Homo sapiens: one gene and its partners. The protein of the gene in region 2 purifies or fractionates together with the protein of the main gene of each other region. This does not show direct contact. Each region holds a gene or a part of one and is shown on either strand. Other genes may lie near its edges.

Region 1 (7,034 bases), on a different chromosome or scaffold from region 2:
AAAGCCAAGAGCTATATGGGAAGAAGGTAAAAGAACCATAGGGAAGAGTTACCTTTTACTTTTCAAATAATTTTCTGTCCCTTTTTAAAATAATGTGTTATTTATATAATTTAATGAGTAGATGTGTTGATTTGAAAAACACACTGATCCTGAAAGTTTAAATTCCAGTTGAGAGAAAATTGATTTCTATGAAAACTATGGATTGCCCAACAATGCCAGAAAACTGAAGTGTAACTATGCAACACACACAGTGGTCAAGGTTGTCATCAGTCACTCTGATTTCACATAGAGAATTTAAAACACCTAATTGGGTGCAGTGGCTCACGCCTGCTATCCCAGCACTTTTGGAGGCCAAGGCAGGAAGATCACTAGGTCAAGGGATCGAGATCATCCTGGCCAACATGGTGACACCCCGTCTCTACTAAAAATACAAAAATTAGCTGGGTGAGGTGGTATGCACCTGTGGTCCCAGCTACTTGGGAGGCTGAGGCAGGAGAATCACTTGAACCCAGGAGGCAGAGGTTGCAGTGAGCTGAGATTGTGCCACTGCACTCCAGCCTGGCGACAGAGCAAAACTCTGTCACAAAGTAAAAAAAAAAAAAGAAGAAGAAGTTAAAATGCCACAGTCCTTGGTGGACTTAACAAAAGAAGATGAATGTGGGAATAAAGACAAAGACAAAAGAGTATTTTGGAAGAAGGGGTCAGGAGGCTCCTTGCTTCTAGTGAAGAAGGGCCCTGAGCTTCTATAGCCCTTTGTATTTATTGAGTAAAGGAGATAGGGAGAAGGGGGTAGTTGTCAGTCAGCTGCTTGGCTTAGTGCAGGCTTGCATGACTGCATTCTTTGAACAGTAGTCTCCAGATGTTCCTGTAGATAACCTCAAGGAGCACAGCACCAGGGAGTCATTGCCCTCAGCAAACCTTCTGGTAGCAGGCGCAGAAGTGAGTTTGCCCACATTCTGCATTCATGATAAACAGTTTGCTGTTAGATCATACAGCCTTCAGTGGAATGCTGAGTTGGTCACGACCCTCAGGCCTTTGGCTCCCTACATTAAAACACCCATTTCACCAGACTAAAAATATTCAATAAAATTTATAAAAAGCACTTAACGCTTGCCAGCATTTAGTAAGGAAGTGCTCAATAAATACTGTTAACACTCTTACTATTACTTTCTCTGCTTGGTAGTTGTCCTAACCCCACACCAGCCCTCCCACATTGCCTAATTCTGACTTGTGTCAGTGATGCAGGACTCGACTCAATCTAGGACAGCTATTGCAAAACGCAAGACTTAAATTCCACCCCAGGTGAAATCTCTTCTGGACCGCAGGCAGCCCTTGAAAAGGATGGGAGTAGTGCCCTCACTCATGAAGGCATTTGTCCCTCAAGATAGGCAGATGTTACCACCTCCATGTAAGAACAATCCCATTGCCTGTTACAGTTCCCATTTCAAAGAGATACTCCCACATATGCATGTATTTCCCTGAAAGATTTCCCGTTATTTATTTATTTATTTATTTATTTATTTATTTATTTATTTAGATGGAGTCTTTCATTCTGCTGCCCAGGCTGGAGTGCAATGGCATGATTTTGGCTCACTGCAACCTCTGCCTCCCACGTTCAAGCAATTCTCCTGCCACAGCCTCCTGAGTAGCTGGGATTACAGGCACATGCCACCAGGCCCGGCTGGTTTTTGTATTTTTAGTAGAGATGAGGTTTCACCATGTTGGCCAGGCTGATCTCGAACTTCTGACCACGCCCAGCTAATTTTCGTATTGTTAGTAAAGAGGATTACAGGTGTGAGCCACCATGCCCAGCCCAAGATTTCCTGTTCTTATCTCCAATAAGCGAGCTTGATGAGGAGTAGTGCTAGAGAGTCCCATACTTCTTGACTTCCTTCCATCCTTTTCTGCTCACAGGCCCCCTCCCTAATGTCCCCTGTGCTCTCCACAAAAGAAATAGTGCTAGAGGCCAAATAGCAACCCTGCCCACACAAGGAAGGGCCATGTAATGTTCACCAAGCACCCAAGCCACAATTCTCTCTTCCCAGAATCCTTTGCTCTTTGAAGTGTAGTCTTCCTCACCTTCCTGCCAACCTCAGCCCCTGAGTCCACCTGTCTACCTCTGAAGAGAAGGGAAAGAGAGATCAAACGCCCCCTGCAGGCCTGTCCCTTTGAACCAAGCCCTGAGAACCCCCGCAGCCGTCCTCCTGTGTACCCTCCCCCAGCCGCACACACAGATGGAGAGCCCTGGGAAGGGTTCCCACAGTGCGTTAGCTCCAAACAGTGCAAGAGGACAAGCAGTGTGGCGCTTCCAGCCTCTGTCAATAATTCATGAGGCTCAGACTGAGGAGCACCAGTCAGAGTCAGCCTTCCCTGGACATGGGGAAAATTATACTGAAGCTCTCCTGTCTCATCGGGATCTGCTGAGTAGCAAAGCAGAGTATTGCAGCTGTAACTTCTTGGCTGAGGAAAACACTAGAATTCCAGTGCAGGCCGTTCTATTACTTGCTCACCATACACCCCCTTTTGAATGTTGAAACCCTTTTTCAGCTGCTCAGCTTACCTGCACATATACTAAATGAATCTTGAGCAAACATGAATTCTATTCAAAAGTCATGCCTAGAACTGGATTTCACAAACCAGGATTCTTTCCCCTTTAATTGTAGGGACTGGCATAAGGCTGCCAAACTGGTGATTTCACCAATAACACATCTCTAAACCTACCCATCTGCTTTCATCATCTTTTCTAAAAGAAAACACTAACACACACACACACACACAAAAAGAAGCAAACGTATACTCCACAATAAAGGACTGTTAAATAAGCTTAGCTTTATGAAACTCACTGTAATTGTTTCCTTTTCTCATTTTGCCTTGAACTAGTGAAAACGCTGCCATGAACCAGCACTGCTTCTCAGTCTGGCTTTGGAGGCCAGTGGGTTAAACCAATTCAGATGCTTGCATTTGGGTCTGTTGGGGCCTTTCTACACTGTACCATAAGCCATCCAGATTTCTTCATTCTCCCGGAAACCCAGGAGGGAGATCATTTCAGCCCACTTGGCAGAAGTGCAGACTGAAGTCTTGGACACAGAATTTATAGCTGGCAAGGACTTTATTCATCATCCATACCCTCAGTAATTTACAGATGAAGAGTCTGGCCCAGGGCACCAATAATAATCACTACATGGTGGCAGTAACTACTATGTGCTTAGTAGCTTACAGTTCATAAAGAGATTTTGCATTCAACAAATATTTATTGAACTAAGATGGCGGCTAAGACCTGGGGACAGAGTGGTTAGGGAGAACTTGAGTGCCCCGAGTTCTTTGCATTTCCACCACTGCTTGAGGGACTGTCCAGCCTCCTCGCTACCACTTAGCCCCTGTAAAGGAGGAAGTCCCTTTGTCAACGGACATGAGAATGCTGTTTGGCCAATGACCATAGTCTGCCCTCCAGGGCCCGTGAAGATGGAAGAGACCTTGGGCAGAGTGAAGGGCAGTGCCAGGCCTGGCGCAGCTACTCCCTATCACGTCTCTCTCCCAGGCTCTTCCAGCCTCACCTGGTGGACTCCATGGCGACCACAGGCCTCACCTCCATGGGCAGTCTCAAAACATTTGCCCTCCTGTGGGCTGTCACACACATAGACCCAGACTTTCTTGGAGAAGGAATTCTGAAGAAGCAAAAGCAACCAACTCAAAACCCCCACTTCCCAGAGAAGAAAAGGTGGGCAAGCAGATGCAGAAAGGCAGCAGCCAAAGCCTGCGGGTTCCTGCAAGGGCCAGGGGAGGGGCGAGCCCTACAGGCAACTTGAACGGAGAGCTCACCCGCCAGCCCGGAAAGGCAAGCCCCAGTCAGGCGGAAGGTAGATGGTGGAGGGGCGCCGCGGCGGATGGAGGTGCCCAGGGCCACAGACCGCTCACAGCGGTACCGGGGCGGGGAGCAGGGCGGGCAGGGAATCGGCCCGCCCTTCGTCCTGCCCCTCGCCCTACTCTGTCACCGCCCCTGGGAAGAGTGGAACCCATACTTGCTGGTCTGATCCATGCACAAGGCGGGGCTGCTAGGCCTCTGTGCCCGGGCTTGGAATTCGGTGCGGATGGCCAGCTCCGGGATGACCCGCCGGGACCCGCTCGCAAATAAGGTGGCCCTGGTAACGGCCTCCACCGACGGGTGAGTGCTCCGGCCGGAGTTTCTGAGGCCCTGGCTGCCTGGAAACAGGCACTGGCCTCTCATCCTCGGCCTCCGGTGCCCCTGTCCTCAGACCTTACACGCTGCCAAAGTCTGGCCCTGGAAAAAAGGTAGCCACGTGGTCCGCCTGAAGCCACTCCGAATCCCCTAGCCCTGGACCCTCCCTTGCCAGCCCTCCTGTCCCTGCTACCTCTGGCACAACTGTGCCACCTCTGTGCAGCCCTATCGATCTAGTCTCCCCAGTGTTCTGGGCTGCCCCAGTCAACCAGCGCCACCTAGCGTCTGGGAAGACCAGAAACTGGAAATCCAAGGAAATCTGGATTTCAAAATACTATCCCACGGCCTCCAGCACTTTGAAAATGTACCAGACATTCTATTTGGGCACCGGAAAGTCCCCCGGAACCCCTCCCCCTTACCTAGATGGGACACCAGAGCCATATGTCGAGATTTTTGTTTAGGTCGGTACATCTGGGCCGACCTTGCCCAGCCTGTTTCTCACCCACCATTCTTGTCTATCCTGGTCCTCATTTCTACAGGACTTTGCTAGATGCCAGCTCTTCACAAAACTAAAATACAAATGTAGGTAAAATGCTAATAGCTGACAAATGCAAAATGTGTAACTCTTCCTCCCAAGGCAATATTTACATTTTTGACCGGAGACCATCTTTTCACATGCACCCCAAAAAATAACTAAGGATAGAATTTTGAGAATGATGTAGACGAGTAAGAAAGAAACCTGGGGGCAGGGCTGTTCTGAGTGAGACCCTCAAATCACGGAAGTGGCTGCTGCTGCAAACCCAGCTCATTTCTCACCTCTCAGTCCCAAGAGGGGATGAAGCCTGTCACCCATGGTGGGAACTGTAGAAAGTGATGTCAGTTCTTGGGAACTGAGGCTGTGGTCCAGGTCATAATAAAAACAAGTAAAGGAATGCCAAAAATGGCCATGCCATTAAGCCTGTTTTACACATAGTAGGCACACGTAGGGGTTATATAGAGAAAGAGCCAGAATTCAAACCCGGGCAGTCTTAACTTCAGAGCTCATACTGTCGACCTCTTCCCCTGCACAGGCCTTAGCAGTCTTTGTCTCTTTCTGCTCACAGGATCGGCTTCGCCATCGCCCGGCGTTTGGCCCAGGACGGGGCCCATGTGGTCGTCAGCAGCCGGAAGCAGCAGAATGTGGACCAGGCGGTGGCCACGCTGCAGGGGGAGGGGCTGAGCGTGACGGGCACCGTGTGCCATGTGGGGAAGGCGGAGGACCGGGAGCGGCTGGTGGCCACGGTGAGCTGCAGGGAAATGGGCACAGAGCCAGGAGGTGGAAAACGGAGCCAGCCTGAGCCTCCTTCCCTGCTTTCCTAGACAGCAGCACATTTTTACTGTGTGCCTTTCTATTATGTCCATATACTAACGTCAGAGAATCATCCCATCTCAGTCAGAGAATTTTAAAACATTCTAATGCTTCAACCCTGCATCATCCCTTGAGTACCCCAAAGAAACAGCTGGTACTGGTTCTGCAGTAATTTTCAATCTAATTGAACAGATGTGAAGGGTAAATACAATCACAAAATACATGTTCCCACCCATGAGTTAATAAACATTCCCCTCTTCTTCAGCTTATAGAGTCAAGTCCCTGGGAACCTCAGGAAGCAGCCCACCATGTTTCAGCCACTTACTATGTGCCATTTCCTGTGTTCAGAGCCTTACACAGGTTATCTCTAGACCTGACAACAACCCAAGCAAGGCAAGGACTATTCTCTCAGTCTGCAGACCCTGGCTCAGATAGCTGGAGCAACTTCCCAAGGTCCCACAGCCAGTAAGGAAAGACCCAGACCTCCCAGGCTCCCTTCCTTTATTGGCTGCCTGTGGACTACCGGGTACTGGACTTTAGTCTCAAAGAAAGTATATAAGTCGATGTCAGAATTAGTAGTGGACACCAGCCTTGCAGCTGCTGAAGCAAATATGAAGCATTCACAAAGGAAGCTCCTCTTCCCTTGAGGCTCACGGCATACACTTTATTTCCCAGAGTGGAAGGGAGAATCTACCCAAAAATGGAAAGTACAGGATTCTGCTAACAGATTGGAAGGTTGGCAGAAATAATTTGCATAATCTTAGAAGAGGAGGATCTTAAGCAATAGTAGACAGTAGTATGGTAGACAGAATAGGGTAATTCCATTTTTAAGGAACTGTCTGGCAAATGCTCAAATGTGCATTGGAAAGAGCCAAATATGAGTCCAAGAAAGTCACAAATGTGAGTCCAAAAAAGCTTGGCTTAGGCTGATGGACAGACCCCAAGATTGGGGCCTTGATCCTGATGGTGGAAGGAGCCGTTTGGGAGTCTGGATCAATTAGCACTAACCATATGACATGTAGCAATGTAATGTGAAAATCCTCCCGGAAAAACATCCTGTGGCCCCCACCAGGTTCACTTAACATGGCCTACAGGCCTGGCCCAGAGGTGGTACTTGAGCTAAACCTTAAGGAATGGATGGGAATGGACAGATGGAATAGTGATGAGGTTCCAGATAACTCTGCAAAATGAGCAGACAGCCAAGGAGGAACTGAAGGAAACAGAGGAGCACTGTCAGGCCACAGTGGAGAGCACAGGCTCAGGAGTACTGCTGGGGAAGGGGCTGCATTGGAAAGATAGAGGCCATGGGCCTCCATATCCTTTTTTTTTTTTTTTTTTTTTTGAGACAGAGTTTCATTCTTGTTGCCCAGGCTGAAGTGATATGGCACAATCTCAGCTCACTGCAACCTCCGCCTCCAGGTTCAAGCAATTCTCATGCCTCAGCCTCCCGAGCAGCTAGGATTACAGGCATCCACCACCACGTCCAGCTAATTTTTGTATTTTTGGTAG
Region 2 (5,308 bases):
AATCTTTGGCATTTGACTTTCTGTTGTTCAACCTTGTAATTCTTTTGCAGGAGAAACTCTTAAAGCAAATGAGGATTTTATGGAAAAAGATTCAAGAAAATCAGAGAAATCTATATGAGGAGGGAAGAACAGCCTTCCTCTGGAGGGTAAGTATGAGACCGTGAGTCCTCCTGACCAGCTTGAGACAGGCATGCTGACAACATTTATATTAGCAACTTGAGTTGAAATTCTTATGCCAGATTTTGTCATGTGTTTATTCATAGGCTGGAAAACAACCAGACTGTTCAACATAACGATTGTTCAGGTTTTCTGTAAATGCTTTTCAGATAAGTAAAAAATAAATATAAATTCTGAAGGGCAAGTATGTGCTTAAAATTAATAAGTATTTCAGACAGAGTTTTCTGTATAAAATTAATTATGAAATGTTGATTAAATAGTATATAATTGAGAAATAAAGGCATTTATTGGTGAATATGATATTGTCCAGGGGGAAGAAATCGGGTGGGAACAGTAATTTAAGAAATGTGCCTGTGCTGGTGAAATCTGATAGCAAAGGACCCACATGATGCCAGTCCGAGTAGGAGAAAATGCAACATGAGGAAAAGCTGAGGAGAAGGGATAAAAAATGACTGGGGCAGTGAGAGGATAAATATGTCATTATTGAGAGGAGAAACACAATGGAATGGGGATTAATGTTCTTAGAATGGCAGTGCAATACAGAGTCTATGGATTTGACAGAAGAAAGATAGGAGACAGAAAAGAGGTAGTCAGTTTGAGAGATGGGGGTTAAATTTTTTACTAAGATCCTTTTTGTGTGATGGCTTCTGATCCTGATTATAATATACTAAAAACATTTCTACTAAGAGTGATTGTTCAGGCTGTGAAGTACAGAGATTTGAAACAACAACCTAAGTGAATAACAAAGATTATGTGTATTATCCATGACAATGTAACAATCATAAATTTTAGTTGTTTTCTAATTGTATTTCCGATTTGATTTAAACATTTAAACCTAAAGGGCTTTTTTGCAGGTGTTTGGGAATTGATGAATTACATAAATTTTGAAGGAAGGTCTTGCTTAACTCATCATCCTGTTTGTAAAGGATGGAAAATAAAAGAAGGAATGAGGAGGATGAAGTTGTAGGCTCTGTGAGGTGGAAGTAGGCCTGGGTATATAACCTACAAAATTCATATCCCTACAGGGCAATGTGGTTTTACGGGCACAGATGATCAGGAATGAGTATAGGAAGCTGCATCCGGTTCTCCATAAGGAAGAAAAACAACATTTAGAGAGACTGAACAAGGAATACCAAGAGATTTTTCAGCAACTCCAGAGAAGTTGGGTCAAAATGGATCAAAAGAGTAAACACTTGAAAGAAATGTATCAGGAACTAATGGAAATGTGTCATAAACCAGATGTGGAGCTGCTCCAGGTAAGAATGGAGGATGCCCCTTGAGACACTTTGTGTTAGCTGACCTTTACATCTTTGCCTTCCATTGGGTACCAAAGACATTATTTCCTCATCTCCTGTACTGACGGTGAGAGTCATTCCCACCGGTTATAGAGATAAACTATAACTCCTACGCTAATCATGGAAATAAAGCTTTATGGAATTGTGCAACTAGATTTCCATACAACATTTTCTACCACAAGCTTCCTCCTCCAGCACATTTCATTAAAACTCTGGAAGAAAAAATTTCATGCTTGATTTGAGCCACATTACACTTTGGGGACTAGCCCTGAAAAAGACCACATTGTAGACAGCTGCAGCAATGCGCAGTCACTACTCACACCTTTCTCTCTCACTCAAATTTAGGGTCCTTAATTTATCAGAAATCCATATTGTCAATAGGTCTTACTGGTATAATTGTTAGAGATGAGAATACATTTTAAAAGAGTGGCAGTAATAGTATACGGTAATTCTAAAGTTTTGAAAACCTAAAGACCAGATAGGCAGAATAGCAACTTTTTTGTGTGTTTATTTTGAGACAGAGTCTTCTTCTGTCACCCAGACTGAAGTCCAATGGCCCAATCTCAGCTCACTGCAACTTCTGCCTCCTTGGTTCAAGCAATTCTCCTGCCTCAGCCTCCCTAGTAGCTGGGACTAAAGGCATGAACCACCACACCCCACTATTTGTGTGTGTGTGTGTATTTTTAGTAGAGACGGGGATTTGCCATGTTGTCCAGGCTAGTCTGGAACTCCTGACCTCAGGTGTTCCACCCACCTTGGCCTCCCAAAGTGCTGGGATTACAGGTGTGAACCACCTCACCCAACAAGAATAACAACTTTCTAAAGAAGTCATTTTTTTTTTCTCTCTCTCTCTACAGGATTTGGGAGACATCGTGGCAAGGTATGTTTTTGGCCGTCAGTGCAAACTGGAGCACAAGGCATGCTATGAAAAACATCAAGCTGTTTCCAACAAAGTGAAAACATAATTTACTAACACCATAATGTGTCAGTGTGATTGTGTGTGTATGTGTGTGTAGTCATGTGTTTATGTGGTATGATGAATGTCATCTATGCCTTTTATCAGACATTAATCTTTTCTTACTTTCCCAAGTGACTCAGGGGTTTATGTTTTGAAGAGTGCAATGCAGAGGTTGCTAGAATACAGTTGCCTCTTTTTGCGATTCAGAATCATAATTAGAGATAAACTATTTGGTGGCAGATAGGGAGAGAGGCATTTATCTTTCAGGGGCAGTAGGTTAGAAATGGAGTGAATAGTTAGAAAGATTCCCTAAGAGCCACAAACCCATCCTAGCGTTGTGGAGGTACATTACGGTATCAGAAGTGGGTTTGAATGAAGCATTTTCTGTTGGAATCTGTTTCTTAAACACAGACATCAGAAAGTTAACCAACTCAACCTACTTCCTTGCAGGAGTGAGTCCGTGCTGCTGCACATGCCCCAGCCTGTGAATCCAGAGCTCACTGCAGGACCCATCACTGGACTGGTGTACAGGCTCAACCGCTTCCGAGGTGAGTGTGGCCCTGTTGGTGGGATCCACATGCAATGCCTTCAATTATGGTTTTCTATGGGCAGCTTTCCCAGTGTAATGATCTTTCATCTAGAAGAAGAGAATAGCCTGTGAATAGGTATTTATATTTATAGTTTCACTATCATCAAACAGACAAAACGAAATAAAAGCTGGTGAAATGTAATAGGAATCAGCCATATAACAAATTTCTTAGAAAAATAAAACATGCAGAAGGGCTCTTTAGGACTTTAGGAACCATTCTCTGATACAATTTCATGTATACAATTATTACATGAAGTATACAGAACTGAATTCAGGACATTTCAATTTCAAATTCAGTGCAGTTAACGACTGATTTGAGTGACAGCGTTTTTTTAAAAAAAATACATTTTTAGGTGATGTTTCATAGCATTTATAATTTTAATCATGTTTTTAATCAACTAAAGCATACATGAGTAACTTATATAACAATGCAAAAACTGAGAATCTGTCAACAATAGGAACATGATTTGGTGGTTGATGAGGTCTTAGATAGAACTCCAGGATAGATCATGACAAATCCAGCAGAATAAAAGAAGTCTGTGCCTGAATCTGGCATGAAAGTCAGATAATTTTTGCAAGGAATCAGCACTTTTCAGAAGGCAGATTCAGGTTTTCTCTTTAAGTATGAATTTGCTAGGTTAAGTGGCAGATCATAATATTTCTGGAAAGTGATAACTTTTTTATTTGGGACTAAGAATAGCTCCCCACCTCATCTCCTGTCCAAAGCCTCCTGCTCTGCCCTGACAGAGACGAGACAATGAAGGTTAATTTTATGGCTATGGACTTGGCTGCAGTGGAGGAGCTTCCAGTTTTTCAGTTGTTATGAAAGGTCGCTAACGAGACATAGACATGACCTTCCTCCCCTTTATACTTTTTGAGTTTATGGAAATTGTGATCATCCTAGTTTAGCCATTTACTTGTGCAGATCTCCTAACACCCTTTGATTCCAACATTTTTCCAGACAGAAGTTTCTTTCTAATCTTGACCTGTGTTTTCTAGTGAGAATCTCTTTCTTATCTGAACATAAGAATTTACAAACTGATTTTCACTGGAACATTCTCTTTTTTCTACAGTGGAAATTTCCTTCCATTTTGAAGTAACCAATCACAATATCAGGCTCTTTGAGGATGTGAGAAGTTGGATGTTTAGACGTGGACCTTTGAATTCTGACAGATCTGACTATTTTGCTGCATGGGGAGCCAGGGTCTTCTCCTTTGGGAAACACTACTGGGAGCTGGATGTGGACAACTCTTGTGACTGGGCTCTGGGAGTCTGTAACAACTCCTGGATAAGGAAGAATAGCACAATGGTTAACTCTGAGGACATATTTCTTCTTTTGTGTCTGAAGGTGGATAATCATTTCAATCTCTTGACCACCTCCCCAGTGTTTCCTCACTACATAGAGAAACCTCTGGGCCGGGTTGGTGTGTTTCTTGATTTTGAAAGTGGAAGTGTGAGTTTTTTGAATGTCACCAAGAGTTCCCTCATATGGAGTTACCCAGCTGGCTCCTTAACTTTTCCTGTCAGGCCTTTCTTTTACACTGGCCACAGATGATCAGGATTAAGAAAACTTACTGTTTGGGAACTCCATATACAAGGGAGCCCTTCACTGTTGATACAAAGAAATCATACTGTTCAGGCTTTTTTGTACTTTAGTGTCACTTCATTTTATTGCTATTAAATAAAAAATTTGTAAAAGGCAAAACTTTTTGTACATTTTCTTACAATTAAAATAATCTCTTATGGACCATTACCTAAAATACGTATTGTGATTTTCAAGTGTTTGTGAATTTATTGGATGGAATTCTGGAAATATGTGGGTGTGTGATTCCAACTTAATGATCTCATTCAGGAACAACTTTTGTACATCATGGGCAGACGGGGTTTTGTACAATGCACTTGTAAGTGTGAGAGTTCCCTCCTATTAATACAGTAAATTCTACACCTCATCCCTTTGGGGGGAAAAATTTATTTCACACAGAAGTTGTCACTGAATCTTTGGGCTAGAACAGGAATTTAACAGTCATGCATCCTATGGCAACAAAATACATTCTGAGAAATGCATTATTAGGCGATTTCATCATTGTGTGAACATCAGAACACACTACAAAAACCTAGATAGTATATTCATCTACAGACATAGGCTAATGGTACAGCCTATTGCTTTTCTGAGAATTTGCTAGCGATGTCTGAGCAAGAACCAAAAGGGTTTAACCCACATTGAATTCTGCAGCTGTTTAATAAAGCAAACAGCATCATCCAGGGAATAATAGATGTGCAGACTGTCTG
Region 3 (7,030 bases), on a different chromosome or scaffold from region 2:
ATGAGGTTTCTTGCCACTGTCAATACTTAACAAGTCCTGTGTATACGAATTCTGAAAACACTGGCTCATGTGCCATATGAAACAACAATAGGAATTTTTGGGGAACAAAGACATTATTTAGTCAACAATGAAATCTCATTTTAGGATTATATTCCAGGTACCATACCAAACTGTTTTCAAATGAATCCCTATGTATGCTTGTATACGTTTTATTTCTTAATAACCGTGTTTTAACATTCACCCATCTTATTCTTCCAGTCATTTTACATGTGAAGAATCTGCCTCAATTAATTTTTTTTTTTTTTTGAGATGGAGTCTTGCTCTGTTGCCCAGGCTGGAGTGCAGAAGTCCCATCTCGGCTCACTGCAACCTCTGCCTCCCAGGGTTCAATCGATTCTCCTGTCTCAGCTTCCTGAGTAGCTGGGATTACAGGCACCCGCCACCGCGCCCAATTAATTTTTGTATTTTTAGTAGAGATGGGGTTTCACCATGTTGGCCAGGCTGTTCTTGAACTCCTGACCTCAAGTGATCTGCCTGCCTCAGCCTCCCAAAGTGCTGAGATTACAGGCATGAGACACCACATCTGGCCTGCCTCAATTAGTGTCCCCAGAGAATTGTCATATTAAGATTCAGTTTGAAACCCCCCACTAAGTGCCTCACCGCAGTTACCTCCTCATTCACTAGCCACATGAATGCCCGCCTTAGCCTCAGTCAGCCTCTCTGTCTTCCTTCTGCTCTGCTGAGGACTCACTCCATCACTGTGCATGACAGTTTCATTTCCCTCAGGGCGCCTTCCACAGCCACAGATGCATCTGACAAATGCCCCGAGCTCCTAAATCCCATGGCATTGTTTTGTCTGTACTACTCCATCGACACCGAAAACGTGCCAACCTCTATTATTATTTATCTTTTTATATGCATATATCCAGCTCCTCAACTAAGCTTTAAATCCTCAAGGACCCAGAGCACATCTTACGTGATGATGTGCACAACAGCCCCCTGCCAATACATCAGCACACCAAGCACTTAGTGCACAAGGGTGACCTGCCAGTCACGGAATCTGGAGCTGGGTGCTGCAGGTCCAGTGAGCTCCACGCTGCTACAGCCAGTGGTCATGCCCAGCCCTCCTCACATCTGACCTGGCCACAGCATGAGTCAGCTGATCTCTCCCCTCTCCTGTAGACAGACCTTCTGCGCGGCCTCCAGGACCACACCCTGTAATCACTTTCCACCTCCCTTAGTGGCCGTTACATCTGGCAGCGTTAACTAGCAGTTCCTCACATGCCTGGCCTCTTAAACTTGAAGGCCCCAGAGCGCAGTCCTTGGACTTGTTCTTTAAGTTCACTCTCTTAGTGGTATCAGAATCTCATTTTAGAGGTTCAGACTTACATATGAAGCTCAGAACTCCACACTCCATCTAACTGCCTACCCAACTTCACCACTTGAACCTCATTTGGTATCTCAAACTTAACTTGAAACAAACCAAGTTTCCGGTCCTCCCAATCTTAGTTAACAGTAGTAACTCACTCTCTTTCTAGTTGCTTAGGTCGAAAATGTTGGCTCCCTCTTCCAAATACTCTGTACCCAGAATCTGATCACATCTTACCACCTTCCCTGCTACCACCTGGTCAAGATGCCAACACTTCTCATCATGGTTACTGCAAAACAGCATCTAAACAGGCCCTCTTCTACCCTGGCCCTGCTGCAGTCTTCTCTCAGGAACAGCAGCACTGACTCACCATTAGCACTGGAGTCAGATCATCTCACTCCTCTGCCCCAACCCCCACAGTGACCTGCTGCACTTGCATCAAGTCTCTACTTAATGCCGCCCCTTGTCAGTCTGTTCCCACCTCTCGCCACTCTCCTTGCACACGCTGCGCTTCAGCCACTCTGCCCTCCTCAAACGTGGCAGGCATTTTTCTGCCTCAAGACCTTAGCACTTGATAGTGACTCTGCGTGAAACCTTTCTCCCCTCAAGAGCCACAGCCTCATGCTTGTGTCTGTCAAGAGCACGCTCACATTCCACATTCTAAGTGAGCCTTCCGACAATGCTCTCTAAAACTCCAACACCAGCCTACATGCCCACATACCTTATCCCCTTCCCTGTTCAGTTTTCTCCATGGCTTGTATTAACTAATAACATACCACATACTTTATCTACTTATTTCGTTCTTTACTGTTCTTCCCTTGCTCCCAAGAATGTAAACTGCATAAGGATAGGAATTTTCTTCTGCTTTGTACACTGACTTATTTCCCTGACCGAGAATAATATCTGACATACAGTGGGCAATCAGTAAATATTTGCTGAATTAATAAACAAAAGGGGGATGTAGATGATATAAAACATAGGGCATTAGGTCTCAAGCAGCCTGTGGAAAACCATAAATGTAGCATATGTGTTTAGGCTTCAGTTCTGCCACATTTTAGCAATATAACCTAACCTTAGATTCCTTATCTGTGACACGAATACAAATACCTACCTCACAAAGCTGCAGAGGAAGGAAATGAGATAACAACAGGATAAGCACTGAATGATATTCTAATATTATTATTTTATATAAATATAAAATAAAAATATGGTACTATTATAATCAAACTGTTGACAACAGCGACTACAGAAAAACATACTTTTCACCAAACTGATACTTACAAAAAAAGAAAAAACATACACTAAAAACACACATTTAATACATAACATACATATTATATCTGTTTAGGAGCTTCGATTATATGAAAAAAAATGTAAGTGTTTTAAGGGTTCGGGGACAAAGGAGTCCAAGGAAAGTGAAAAAGTTTAACCAGCTTCATGAAAGAGGTGGGTTTTGAGCTGAGCACTAAAAAAACGGGGTAAGATTTTAACAGGCAGACCAGGAAGAAAAGCTGCTCTCCATAGGAGAGTGACACGAGCAAGGGAACCCAGGCCGCAATGAGCGTGACACGCCTGTAGCTTAACCGAGAGCCCTGACAGGTCAAGGGAAACAGTTGTTTACGAAAGAGTAAGAAGTAAGATTGAGTGCATTTAGAGAACTTTGGAGAAGAGAGGAACATGCTAGGGTGAGAAGGGATAAGCACAGAAGGAATAAAGACAAGCGAGGATTCAGGTTGTGATCTGCCCCCAGTGTCCCCTCTGTCGGTGAGTGGAATGTCTAACCAGATGTACAACCAGAAACCCAGGGGGCCCACCACAATGCCTCCTCCTCCCTCTCACCCTCACTAAGTCTTGCAACTTCACTGCCAAGACCTTGAGTCTCACGCAGCTCCATCATCACGGCCACCCTACTCCTGACTCACCACCTAAATTACAACTGTAAGTTAATAAATGCTTCTGAAAAAACGTATTATGTACATTTATATTATTATTGTGTAACATTTTCTCTTAGACATTATGAATCATAAGGAACTCAACATAGCACAAGGCAAGTTTATGACAAACCCAACGACACACTTCCGTAACACCTCACCTAGCACAAACCTTCCTAAGCAGTACTCTTCTCTCTGAAAAGGAGGCTTATCTGACTGTGTGTTTTTTATATGACCTAACCTACATTTAACCTTGACCTCAGTAAACATACTGATCTTTCATTCTCTTACACTAATTCTAACCAATTTGTCAAATTCAGCACAGAAACTGTGTTAAAATGAAAACAATTTAGACTAACATCAAAATGAAAATTTAGGTTATGATTTTACTCTCAACATTCACATAAAATAAAATTCTTTGGTTGGACAGAATTATGCCAAATTATTAGCTCTATTTAAAAATGGTTCCTATAAAAATACATAGAAAATCTCAATAAATGGTTCTCTACATGTATTAAAAATAGAACACTAATTTACAGCTATTTAAAATCAAAAGCTCAGTTTCATAAAAATCCTATTTTGCCCTTAAATGTTGGATAAACAGGCTTACCTGGATTTTTAGCTATCGTTCCTTGGAGAGCCCTGTGAGAAAACGTGGAATACCCCACCAACTTTGCCAGAAGATCTCTGCTGCTGAGCAATTCTTCTAAACATTTCAATTGACCAGCATTGGGATAAAGAAAAATTTTATAAGCAGCTTCTCGCACCTACGTTTAAAAAGTAAATGGTGAAGGCTATAAATATCATCACACAGTCCTATGCAACAATAACACAGGCTCATGCTCACCACTTGATCTGCAGATGATCACTGCTTTCAAAATAAAGCAATGGTCTACACGAGGCCATAAAGCTTCCAGAGTCATAAAATAGCATGGGATGCAATAGCATACTTGACTGCAGCTCTAGGGTACTGTTCTGAGGTACGGTGGGGCAAACCTCTACCCAGTGCGTGGATCTCTATGCTATAAAGCGTCTTAACCAGGAGAAGTAAGGCTGCATGAATTTAAAAGTCTCTGTAGTCTAGAATGTCAGTTAATGGTGTTATTAATCATACTTTAAAAATAAGGAGTCTTGTATGAAATATAAGTAATTAAATCATTTTCATTCTTTAAAGTGTTTATGGCATTAATAATTCCACAAGTTAAATTTTTAGGGCTTAGTAATGCTAAAAAGTTTTTAAGGATACTATTATATTATCACTGAATTTTGGGTTAAAACAGTAGCAACACACAAATGGGACCTAAACAACAAAGAGAATGAAACATACATACCAAGTCATCTGGTGATTCTGCGTGGAGACCATCAATTATGATATGATCCCCAGCAGATGTAAAGTTACGACGAATGTGTTCTGGTAAGAGATGCTTCTCAATCTTGTTGGGAAAATTGGTTCCCATAAGAAATGTACTACTCAAATCCAAGATTTTAACATTGAGGTCCACTGCTCTTTTACGCTGTATGCAGGAGGAGTAAAAGTTATTTAAAGGCGTTTTGAATTAATATTTCACAATTTAATAAACAAAATATAAATATGTCAAATCAACATATATATTGTTGAATTATCACTTAATAAAATATTAGTTTAGTAAAATGAATATATTGTTACTATATTATAAATAATATATTAATTTTACTTTTAACAGATATTTAATATTCTAACAAAAAGATCATACTTATGGTTTTCTGATGTTTCTATGTTTTAAGATTTACATAACTTCTAGTTCTATTTTATGTCTAGGTTATATAACTAATTGTTGAAATTAACAACATTGAAAAACACATGCCAGGTGCAGTGACTCACGCCTGTAATCCCAGCACTTTGGGAGGCCAAGGAGGGCAGATCACTTGAGGTCAGGGGTTGGAGACCAGTCTGGCCAACATGGTGAAATCCCATCTCTACTAAAAATACAAAAATTAGCTGGGCGTGGTGGCACGTGCCTATAATCTCAGCTACTCAAGAGGCTGAGGCACGAGAATCGCTCGAACCCAGGAGGCGGAGGTTGCAATGAGCCGAGATCGCACCACTGTACTCCAGCCTGTGAGACAGAGGGAGACTCTGTCTCAAAAAAAAACAAAAAACAAAAAAACAGTTATTTGCAAAAGTGTAGTGAGCCTCCAGAAGGGGGAAGCACATTTTAAAAGTTCTGATTTTGGGTGTGGTAGCACACGCCTGCAGTCCCAGCCCTATGTGGGGCTGAGGCAGCAGGATCACTTGAGCCCAGGAGGTAAGGCTTCAGTGAGCTACGATCACACCACTGCAACCTGGGCAACAAAGCGAGACCCTGTCTCAGGGGGGAATAAAGTTCTGATTTTGCATGTGCTTGAGCTGCTACAGAATGATACAGTGAAGTCTAAGAAGCAGACTGGAACCCCAGGGCATGGTCCTTTCTTCTACTCTGTGTCCCTGCCATGTGGCACATGGTCCTTGCTCCTGCCAGGCCTTCAAATGGTCAGTGATGAGGACGTGGATGGTGCGGACACATCTGCTTAGGTTTAATCTTGCAGTCATATCTTTGTAATACACAATAACCTGAGAAAACGTGTATTAGCAAAGGGGTTGCCATAAATGCTCTAAGATTAAATATAAACTAGAAACCACATAATTAGGCTGACTGGAGGAGAAGGGCTGAATTTTCAGTTATTGGCTACTCAAAAACTAGACAGGCTCTGCAGATGAATTTTCAGTTATTGGTTACTCAAAAACTAGACAGGCTCTGCATATGAATTTTCAGTTACTGGTTACCAAAAAACTAGACAGGCTCCGCACTGGGCTCATGTTGGGCTTCAGGTGAAAGTGTACACAAATCTTTCTGGGAGAGGAGATAGCAATTAACAAGTTCTAAACTGTTCTATGCTCCTAAAAAATGATTAAGCCACAATACTAATATACTTTTTAAAGATAAACATAGATGATGTAGAGGCATGCTTGATAAGATGCTGAAAAAATTGAGTATATATCAATATCCCCAGAATTTCAATATAGAAAATTCAAATTTCATGGAAAAAAGTTTTAGGAGACTCCCATTTCCTTACAGTCCAGATTTCTCTTTGCTTATTTTGTTTGATATGGCCATTTATCACCACCTAATGGTAACAAGTGGAATAACAAAAAAGATGAACAAGATTTTGAAATCACATTACAGTTCCAAAATTGTCTTCAAAACTTTTACTTTGAAAAAAAAAATGTGATAAAATTAACTACTTTGAAGATTTTATCTACTGATAAAACCTCTGGAAAAATCAAAACTGAGTTCATGCCAACTTCAATGATCTGCCAGGCATATCACTTCATCATTCTGTGGTAACAATGAAATGTACAATAATCTGAACTCTTGAAAAATTCTATGAAATTTCTGTGTTATTAAATAATGTTAAAAATAAACATTTCTATTACATTTAAACTTATAAGTTATATTTGTATGAGACCTTAAAAATTAAGGCCGGGTGCAGTGGCTCACGCCTATAATCCCAGAACTTTGGGAGGCTGAGGCAGGTGGATCACCTGAGGTCGGGAGTTCGAGACCAGCCTGACCAACATGGAGAAACCCCGTCTCTACCAAAAATACAAAATTAGCTGGGCGTGGTGGCACATGCCTGTAATCCCAGCTACTCAGGAGGCTGAGGCAGAAGAATCGCTTGAACCCGGGAGGCGGAGGTTGCGGTGAGCCAA

The links.
Region 1: the proteins of TRIM43 (region 2) and DHRS4 purify together in Homo sapiens (affinity purification with mass spectrometry; 2 studies listed by BioGRID and IntAct, with this or other methods). This does not show direct contact.
Region 3: the proteins of TRIM43 (region 2) and MIPEP purify together in Homo sapiens (affinity purification with mass spectrometry; 2 studies listed by BioGRID and IntAct, with this or other methods). This does not show direct contact.

What each region holds. Positions count from the first base shown.
Region 1 is NC_000014.9:23,949,755-23,956,788, forward strand, and holds the start of DHRS4 (dehydrogenase/reductase SDR family member 4), read left to right. Parts: upstream 1-4,015; 5' UTR 4,016-4,034; coding exon 4,035-4,162; exon of another isoform or gene 4,163-4,443; intron 4,444-4,993; exon of another isoform or gene 4,994-5,280; coding exon 5,281-5,458; intron 5,459-7,034. UniProt on the Homo sapiens protein: NADPH-dependent oxidoreductase which catalyzes the reduction of a variety of compounds bearing carbonyl groups including ketosteroids, alpha-dicarbonyl compounds, aldehydes, aromatic ketones and quinones.
Region 2 is NC_000002.12:95,595,000-95,600,307, forward strand, and holds the end of TRIM43 (tripartite motif-containing protein 43), read left to right. Parts: intron 1-50; coding exon 51-146; intron 147-1,202; coding exon 1,203-1,433; intron 1,434-2,329; coding exon 2,330-2,352; intron 2,353-2,880; coding exon 2,881-2,978; intron 2,979-4,092; coding exon 4,093-4,574; 3' UTR 4,575-4,779; downstream 4,780-5,308.
Region 3 is NC_000013.11:23,865,382-23,872,411, forward strand, and holds part of MIPEP (mitochondrial intermediate peptidase), read right to left. Parts: intron 4,815-7,030; coding exon 4,632-4,814; intron 4,068-4,631; coding exon 3,911-4,067; intron 1-3,910. UniProt on the Homo sapiens protein: Cleaves proteins, imported into the mitochondrion, to their mature size.